Linked DNA regions of Homo sapiens. The protein of the gene in region 2 interacts with the protein of the main gene of each other region in a biochemical or structural test. Each region holds a gene or a part of one and is shown on either strand. Other genes may lie near its edges.

Region 1 (4,893 bases), on a different chromosome or scaffold from region 2:
TACCTGCTCCTCCCAGGACAGGTACCTCATCCCCCAGCCAGCGCTCCTCCTGGGCCCCTCCCTCACCCCACACAGACCAACCAGTACCTGTGGCCTCTCCTCCCCTTACCCAGCTCCCTCCCGGTTGTCACCATCTCTGGTCCCTCCCCTACCCATTCTTCCCACAGCTGGGAACCTCCTAGGCTCTCACTGCCCCTGGAGAAAGCCCAGACCTCTCCAGGCCTTCCAGACTGCCCACTCCCTGGCCCTGTCCTGCTCTCTACCTCAATCCCTGTTCTGGCTACTCTGTGAACATATGTCTCATTTCCCAGCCCCCATATTTTTGCAGATGTTGTTCCCTCAGCTGGAACAGCCTTCTGAATTCCCACAGATCCTTCCAGGCAGCTCAGAAGGCTGGCCCTGGGGGACCCTTCCCACCTCTCAGGAAGCTAGCTGCTTTCCCACTGGTAACCTCTGCCACACCAGGCCCATGGAACTTACAGCCTGGTGGGAGCCAGTCACATAAATATGTGATTACAAAGGATGGTAAGACCTCTGTAGGATGCGCCACGCAGGCAGTGAGTAGCAGGGAGTGAGGGGGGCTGGAGGAGAACGGAGGCTGCAGGGACCTGTTGGCTGGGGGCCTTCGATCTGAGGGGTCAGCAGGAGCATAATGGCCTGCCCTGCCAGAGGGTCTGGAAGGTTCAGAGGGGCAGGACTTGGGAGCCTGGCTGTCATCGGCTCACATCCACCTCTGCCAGCTTGTGTGGGGTAGGGCCTCCTTGGAGGGAGGCCACCAGGCACAGGCCTCGAGTCACCAGCCAGCCCTAGGATATGAGGAGTCCTGGGCTCAGTCAGAGGGCGGTGCCCCAGGTACCCCTGAGAGAGGAACAAAGGCCCCTTCATGGCAGGAGCCAGAGAGCCAGATCCTGTGAGGACAAGGGGCCTCTGTGAGGAGCCAGGGTGGGGGATGCAGCCGGGCCTCTCCACGAATAACCACACGTGTGCACACAGGCACACTCGCCAACCCAAACAGCACATAGGGAGCCCCACTCGACATTAGACACACACGCACACAGTTGGAGCCACAGGTACGTACACACACTGCTGTGATGACACAGGGGCACACGTACACACACACACACACACACACAGAAACACACATGCACTCACCGGCTCTCACATCTCAACAGATACCCGGGCCCACACAGACCACACCCGACCACATAGGCTCCACACGCACGTGGAGTGCCACAAGCTGTGATGTACACACTGGCACAGAGATGCTCCAGGCAGACACAGAAACAAACATACAGTCCTGGAAGGACCCCACATCCCTGACTAGAGTCTGGCACCATGAAGTCCAAATGCAGCTTTTTCCACCACAGCCCCCAGGCACAATGGCTGGGGAATGGAGGAGGGGCAGAAGGGCAGCTGGTGTCAGGCTAGGCTGGGCCTTTCCACCCAGGGAGACGAAGAAAGTCCCTCTTGATCCAGAGCAAAGTCTAAAGTGTGTAAGGGAAGGAGTGGGCTGGTCAGGCACATCACTGGGCAGGCCTCCGCCCGCCCGCCCACCTGCCTGCAGGGCCCTGAGGCTATGGTGGAGGTTGAAGGTCACAGGTGGCAGTCACAGGCCTGGCGCGCAGGGGGAGGGGAGGGCTTGAACCTATGTTGGTAGGGCAGCAAGCCGGGCACCCCAGGAGCAAGTTCCTTGAGCTCCAGGCTCACTGTGCAGAAACCGAAAGAGAGGTTGAGCAATTCAACCAAAGCCACAAAGCCAATGGGGCAGACCCAGGGGGAAGTGGGGAGAGAACTTCCAGCTCTAGTCCTAGAACTGCCCATCTGGCCTCCAATGGGGTGAGGGTATGTGTTTGGAGATGGGAACAGCTCCTCCATCAGCCCCCAGTACAAGAGCCCTACTCCTTAGCCCTTCTTTCTCCCACAGAGTTCCCACGATTTTCCAGATGGTTTACCATTGGAAACAATCGTTTTGTGTTTGGGAGAAGGCAAGATGGCCACCTAACCCTTTTGCCAGTCATCCCCAGGATCTGGGCAGGATCCACATGATGCTTCCCCACTTTGGGGATATTGAGAAAGCTGGGAGAGAGGCAGGACCATCCCGCATGGTGCGCCATCCCACAGCAGGCAGCGGACAGAGGAACCGGCGAGCTTGGACCTAGACAGGCCTAGCTCAGATCTGCTGCCTGGGTGCTCCGCGATCTTGGCCCAAGTGCTCTGGTGTCTTCCAGACTTCCTTGGAAAGTGGGAAAAGAGGCTCTGTTAAGCCCCCCAGCCGCAGGGTGCCCTGTTCTGGCCTGAGGCTCTGGGCAGAACTGGGCTGAAGCAGGCAGCATGAGTCCACTGGCAGAGGCTGGCCAGCTACTGCCCCTCCCGGGGCTCCAGCCTCCCTGTCTCAACAATGGAGACCTCTAAGCTTTCTCCAGCCCTGACACTGGAGGACCCTGGGATCCTCCTCCCACCCCAACAACCCCAGCCCACAACCTACACCACGCAGACATCTGATCTAGCCTCAGGCCTTGGCGACTGCCTGCTCTGCTCTGCCTGTTTACCCAACACGGCCATAGACATGATCCAAAGCTTCCGGAGCTGTTGTGAAAACAGCGGCTCAGCCACCACAAGCCTGCCCTCCTGGGTGCCTTGGCAGAGACCTTTGAGGGACAGCCATCCCAGTCCTGTTCGTGGGCCTCTCAAATGCTCCCCCACCCCTTAGAAGGCCTGTTGAGCCCTCTCCTCCCCAATCCTGGCTTTAGGCTCCCGTCTCTACTTTGGGCCCAGACCCTCCTGAACTTCAGGCTTGTGGCCCCACCTGCCTCCCTGGCTTCACCACATGAATGACTCCAGAAGAGCTCAAGCCTGCCCACACCAGTCCCCCGCCGTTCCCCTCCCAGCGCTCCTCATCCACTAGGAGTGCACGAGCTCAGGCAGTGGCTCAGGCCAGACAGCTCCCCCTGCTCCCCACACAATAAGGCCATCCCGTCTGCCGCTGCAGCCTGTCCTCAAGTCTCAAATCCTCTTCTCCCACCACCACCATCCCCAGGCTCTGCACCTGTCTTCTGACTGCTCTCCATCCTCTACCCCGGCCCGACAGTCCCCCTGTTCCAGCCACCAGACGGGGCTTTTCAGACAGATTTTGTCACCCCCTGCCCAAGCCCCCAGTGCCTCCCATTGCCCCTCTGACAAGCCCAGACTCCTCCCCTCAGCCTGCTCCATGCAGCCTGCCCCCCGCCACCCCCCTCCCCATCACCGTTACCTCCCTGACCTCTCGGGCAGGCGCTGCCTTTCCCTCATTCCTGTGCCCCAGCCACGCTGACCCCTTTCAGTTCCCGAAGCAGCCAGTTCCTTCCCGCTTAGGAGCCTCTGGGCTTGCTGTTCCGTCTTCCTGCTCCACCCCACCCCACACAGTGGCTCCTTCCCATCGTTCATGTCTCACAGGACACCACACCCCGTGATCTGCCCATTTCACAGACGAGGCAAGTGGGGAACGGTCCAGTCCCTGGCTCAAGTGTGCACAGCCAGTAAATATTGAGCAAGGATTCAACCAGGGTCTGTCTGATGCCTGCAGAAGTCCTGCTCCTAAGCCTTCAGGATACCCTCAACCACACTTCCCGCCCAGGCCCATCCACCTTTCGCTCTCCAGCCCTCAGGCCCCTGCTGTTTGCATCACTGTCCTTACCACTCCTCAACACTCCTCATCCCCAGCCTCTGGGCCCCACACAGTGAAGGCCAATGCTTAGCCCAACCCTAACTGTGCTGACCTTCTTCGTGTCCCTGGGACAGGCTGGGCCCTGCCCCCAGCTGCCATGGGTGTAGGGGGTTTTCTAGCTCCCCCTACTCTTCTAGCTTCCATCAGTCCCAGATGCCCACTCCCTGCCCCAGCCCACAGGCTGACTCCAGGGGTCTGAAGGGTAAGCAGGCTGGCAGGAGGGCTTACGTCCACCCCCTCGTTCCCAGCCAATTCTCCCAGCCTAATGTCCTGCAGGAGGCCAGAGCTGGAGAGGGCCAAGGGGAGCCCTGAGGGGGCAGCAGGCAGCTGCAGACTGCCTTTCCCCTCCCTGCATCCATTTGTCACGAGATCTATTTTCTCCCTTTGAAAGGGAGTGAGGGGGAGAAGAGCAGGCAGGGGCTGGACTGCTGAGTGGGTGGAGCTGCTCCAACAGGAGCTCCTCTCCTCGGAGGGCATGGAACCTACTGAACAAGTAGGGCACTGCCACTGGAGGTAGAATTGAGGGGGATGAGGGAGTCAGAGACCTGGCTCCTCAGCCAGGCTCCACAGCCACCTGGCCATGTAACACTGGGCCAGTGCCCAGCCCATCAGATAATAATACCCCCTCATCAGTCCCACTTGCTATTTTTTGAATAGTTCCCATGAACTGGGCTCTAAATGCTTTACATAACTACAGTTTCTACTCATTCAACTCTGACAATGCACTAAGCACGATGCCAGCTACTTTGCATATGTTATCTGTCATTTCCGCACAACCTCATCAAGATGGATGCTATCATTATCTCATCTGTCAGGGGGAGACTGAGGCACTGAGCGGCAGAGCCACTTGCCCAGGTTCATTCATAGAGCTGCTGGGAGCTGCCTAGTCACTAAGATGCAGCCCAGCCATCACCTCTCTCAAGGGGGCCATGCCTACCAGAGTTGATGCTCTTGAGCCTCGGCTTACAGGCTCAGAGCAAGAAAGGAGCCACGGTTGTGGGGACTGCAGGGGACTTCGTGACCTGCCCCCTGCCCTTCTCCTAGAGCCCCCCAAAAAGGCCTGGGCAGCCCTGGCAGTGAAAAGCCTGGTCAGTCAGCCTAACCCGGTGGCCAGACGCTGCTCCCCTGGGCAGGCAAGGCAGGGGCGGAGCAAGGCGTAGAGCCACTGACAGAGGGCTGGTCAGTCCCAC
Region 2 (4,893 bases):
GAAGAGTTAAGTGTAAATGAATCAAAACCAGACAAATTCAATTTCCTTTCAATTAAACAGGATTTTTTTAAAGGCCACGGGAAAGACGCTTGGAGCCAAAGAGTGTTTTGGGTTTTAAATGAGACCAAATTTCGGAAAAGAATCTAAGACCCCAGAGTGGCGTCAGGCCCTATTCTTAGTTTGCATTAACGGAAAGGGATTAGCACAGTTCTAGTGTCACTTGGCAATAAAAACAACCAGCTCGGAGAAACTCACCAAGCACCTGCTGAGAGCCCCTGCCTTCACCTGGCCTTGAGGGTCACTCCACAGTACAAAATGTAGCCCTGAGATTATGGGAGAAGAGCCACACAGGATCAGATAGAACATCTACGTGAGGTTCTATCATCCACACCCCCAAATAAGAAATGTTTTAAAGCCTGTCTAGGATCAGAGTCAAATGAACATGAGAGCTGAAAGCAAATTTTGAAATCATACCTTCATTTTATATATGAGAAGACCTTTAACATGAATGATGAGGAAGTGAAGTGACTTGCCTAACATCCCATAGCTAGTTTGGGATAGAGCTGGGGCTGGAACTCAGGTCTCCGGATCCTAGGCCAGCCAATTTCTCCCTGCATTTACCTCAATTTCGAATCTTAAAGTCACCGGGACCAGCACATTCAGGATAAAATCTTGGTGCCCATTCACCTTTTTACAAGTCTGTTTCTGTGTCTCTCTTAACGTTTGTTTTTTTTTTTTTTTTTTTTTGAGACGGAGTCTCGCTCTGTCACCCAGGCTGGAGTGTAGTGTTGCAACCTCGGCTCACCACAACTTCTGCCTCCTGGGTTCAAGCGATTCTCCTGCCTCAGCCTCCCCAGTAGCTGGGACTACAGGCATGCACCACCACACCCAGCTAATTTTTGTATTTTTAGTAGAGGTAGAGTTTCACCATGTTGGCCAGGATGGTCTCAATCTCTTGACCTCATTATCTGCTAGCCTCGGCCTCCCAAAGTGCTAGGATTACAGGAGTGAGCCACCGTGCCCGGCCCAATATTTTGGAACTTTTTGCTTTTTTCCATGTAATAATATACATTGGAGAATTTTCTAAATCAGTGTATACGACAATTGATTTTATCCCATTTTGTAGTTGCATGGCATTTTCTTACATGAATCTTTCCTCCTTTGTTTATCTAGTCCCCTACTGGTGGACATTTAGATTATTTCCAACTTTTGCTGTAACAAACAATGCTACAATAAACACATTGTACATATATCTGAGTGAACATAGCTGTAGAATTGGCATTATCAAATTTGTGTAAATAGTTAACTTCTCAAATAGATGTTGCTCTGTGGAAAGATTATACCAAGTCATACTCCTACCAAGAGGATAAGACAGTGACATTTCCTTTACTCTTTCCAACATGAGACATTAAGCTGTTTTAGTCTCTGCTGTCCTCCTAGGTCATAAACATTGGAATTTTATTATTTTTATTTGAATGTCTTTATGCATGTGCTTGAAATTCTTTTCATTTATTTATTGCCCATTTGTATTTTCTTTCTAGTGTTGTCTATTCATAGCATTTTTGCCTATTTTCTGTTAAGTGGTGTGTCTTTTCTTATTGATTTGTAAGTAGTCTTTGTATGATAGGACATTTATGCTTTATGTATGATAAATATTCTTTCTCCGTTTCTCATTTAGTTTTCACCTTACCTATGGTATTTTTCTCCATGTTTTTTTTTTTTTTCTTTGAGACAGAATCTCGCCCTGTTGCCCAGGCTGGAGTGCAGAGGCACGATCTTGGCTCACTGCAACCTCCACCTCCTATGTTCAAGCAATTCTTCTGCCTCAGCCTCCCAAGTAGCTGGGACTACAAGCATGCGCCAGCATGACCAGCTAATTTTTGTACTTTTAGTAAAGACAGGGTTTCACCATATTGGCCAGGCTGGTCTTGAACTCCTGACCTCAGGTGATCCACCCGCCTTGGCCTCCCAAAATGCTGGGATTACAGGTGTGAGCCACCGTGCCTGGCCCCATGTTAATATATAAATAGAGGAACTAAAGCTGAGAAAGGGAGAATCAGAAGAAGAAATATCCTTGGCTGAAGACCTAGCCTTCCAAAAATATCCTTACAGTAAATTATATCACCAAGGGTGAAGGGGCAATGGAGAATATAAACTGGTTGTTACCTTTAAGAAAATGTGTCTAACCATCCTTATGATTATAAGCCACAAATAAAGATTTCTCCAATGAGTATTGCTTCTTTTGGAATTTCCAATACTCAGAGCTAAAAATCAGAAAGAAGAGAAATGTCTACTCTCTCAAAGCCTGGAAGAAATAGCATAGAAACCTTATTCTTGTTCATTTACATGAATGCTCTATTGAGATTGGTGCCTGGTAATATTATTCAACATTTGGGTGAATGAATACATGAATGAGTATTGAATACATGAATGAGTATGAATTCAGTCATAAATGTCTAAAGACAAAATGACTCTGTAGACATGAGAATTTCAATTGAAACATACGCTTTTCCATAGACTGTAACAGCAGTAACTTAAAACAACTCATGAGCAGAGTAATTTTCTAATATTAACCTGTTTGTTTTCACACTTTTGCTACATGAATGGTACTGCAGAATTGCTCACTCTCCGATTCCTTTCCCATAACATCAATGAATACCCATATATTCAGACCTAACAATTCTGCTACTGGAGTGTTAGATTCCAGTAGACATGTGAAACCCACACAATGTCTAGAAATTCGAGGTTAAAGCTCCCATGGCACCTGTAATTCCAGCCTCTTGCATGTGTGCACTGAGATGTGACATAAGATCTTTCATTGCCTTGGACACATAGCACTGGCTGGGTAAATGGGGCTTGCTCTTGGGAAAGCATTTCAGTGTTCAAGTCTGCCTTCCCTTTGAGGTGATTTGAAAAATTCTCATACTCTGAGATTTTGATCTTAAACTAAATGGCAGACACATTGTTTCCCAAAGATGGCAAATCTCTTAAATACATTAGTGTTTGCTTCATTTTTGTAGGGATGAGCAATTTTGAAGGTACTGTAAAGTTGATCTGAATTATCTGAAAATGCGTCTGAACACTCCATCTCTGATCCTACTTGGAATGACGGTGATGAGTCTCTGCGTTTTTGGTTTGCTGGGGTGAAGTGTCAGTATTCCTAACTGAGACCAGCGGCCCAGCCAACTCATGGAAGAATGTCAGACTTGTCTGAAGGCCCACAGAAATTTGATTTGAGTTTTAGAGAGACTTTTTTTTTTCTTTTTTCTCCTCTCAAGCACTATCTGCTGACTCATTCTCAAAAGGAACTAAAATTGTAGCCCAGGATAGAAGGCCCAATTGAAAAGATTGCTCATGGTGAAATCCCCTGGGAAGGAAGGGATGAGAAGGATAATCACAGTTTTATGTCATCTGGTGAAATAGAGTTTCTCCTCCCTCCCCTAATGCCATATTTAATCAACAGGTGTCTTTGAAGACAGAAGACAGCACTGCTGGTTGCCTGAATCTATCTCTGGTTGTCTAATCCTGACTGCTGCTCATTTCTTGTGTGGCCTCTGATAAGTGATGGAGCCACTTCCATCTTCATTTCCTAAGGAGAAGAGAGTACGAAGGATTTGTTTCTAAGAGACTTGTACAGCTATGTAGATCATCCCTCTAGTCACAAGTTTTCATTCCTCCTTTCTATACATGTTACAAGACCCAAGTTATTATTATTTTGAGGCAGGTATTCACTTTGTCATCTAGGGTGGAATACAGTGGCGCTCATGGCTGATTGTAGCCTTGACCTCCCTTGGCTCAGGTGATCCTCCCACCTCAGCTCCCTGAGCAGCTGGGACTACAGGTGAGTGCCACCATGCCCGGCTAATTTTTGTAGTTTTTGTAGAGACTAGGTTTCTCCATGTTGCCCAGTCTGGTCTTGAATTCCTGGGCTCAAGTGATCCACCCATTTCCGTCTCCCAAAGAACTGGGATTACAGGCATGAGCCACCATACTCACCCCCAAATTCTTTGTTATAGTATGTAAGGTCCTCTGTAGTCTAGTTCAATTCAGTCTTTCCACTCCCATCCTCTCCATCACCTGTACACTTTCCTCCCCAAAGTACCCTCCACTCTCCTAGAAAGCCCTTTACCATAGTTTCCTATGCAAGACCTACCTATCTTTCAAGGCCAGGCTTAGATCCACCTGTGCCAAGAGGCAGTGTGGCCAGTGTGTGTAGTAAAAGCAGGAATCAGGAATGAGAAACACTGGGCTTGAAACCCAGATCTGTCCCCTGTTAGTTATACTCTTGGGCAAGTTACCTCACTCCTCTGAACTTTAACTTCTTCCATATGAAGTAGAGACATCATGGTATTATCTCCCATAGGGCTACTGTGAGAATGGGATGCAAGAGTGTGTGGGCCAGTGATCTGTGGAGGGACTGTATGATCTGTGAAGAGATTTATGAAAGGGACTACATAAACAACTATTATCATGAGGTCTTTGTCTGTCTCTCCAGTTCAAATCATCCTTTCTTTTCTCAGGGCTATGGTAACACTTGCTGTGCTCTGCAGGGCACACATATGTGGCTTATCTTCTCGCTAGATCTCCTGGCAGAGCCCTTTTGCCATTGGGGTTCTATCTTCACAGAACATAGTTTAGTCCCTGCCTAACAGACATGCAATCACCTTCATATGGTTGGTCAGTTTATGATGCCCCTGAGACTGAGGTACCACCAATTCCCATAAGGCCAGCTAGCTTTGCACAGGAAAGGTTTATTCCATAGATTACCTAAATTTTGTCAGATTTGCACTATATTGGCCCTGCAGATAGTGTGGGGACATATAACCCTATCCATAGCCTCTGGGGAAACATCTCAGTGCACAGGCAACTGATGGTGGGTCTATCAGGTCAGTG

What was found.
Region 1: of the proteins of FLI1 (region 2) and PRKCD, one has a biochemical effect on the other in vitro, tested with the Homo sapiens proteins (one study listed by BioGRID).

What each region holds. Positions count from the first base shown.
Region 1 is NC_000003.12:53,167,178-53,172,070, reverse strand, and holds part of PRKCD (protein kinase C delta type), read right to left. Parts: intron 3,369-4,893; exon of another isoform or gene 3,289-3,368; coding exon of another isoform or gene 3,251-3,288; intron 1-3,250.
Region 2 is NC_000011.10:128,699,697-128,704,589, reverse strand, and holds part of FLI1 (Friend leukemia integration 1 transcription factor), read right to left. Parts: intron 1-4,893. UniProt on the Homo sapiens protein: Sequence-specific transcriptional activator. Recognizes the DNA sequence 5'-C[CA]GGAAGT-3'.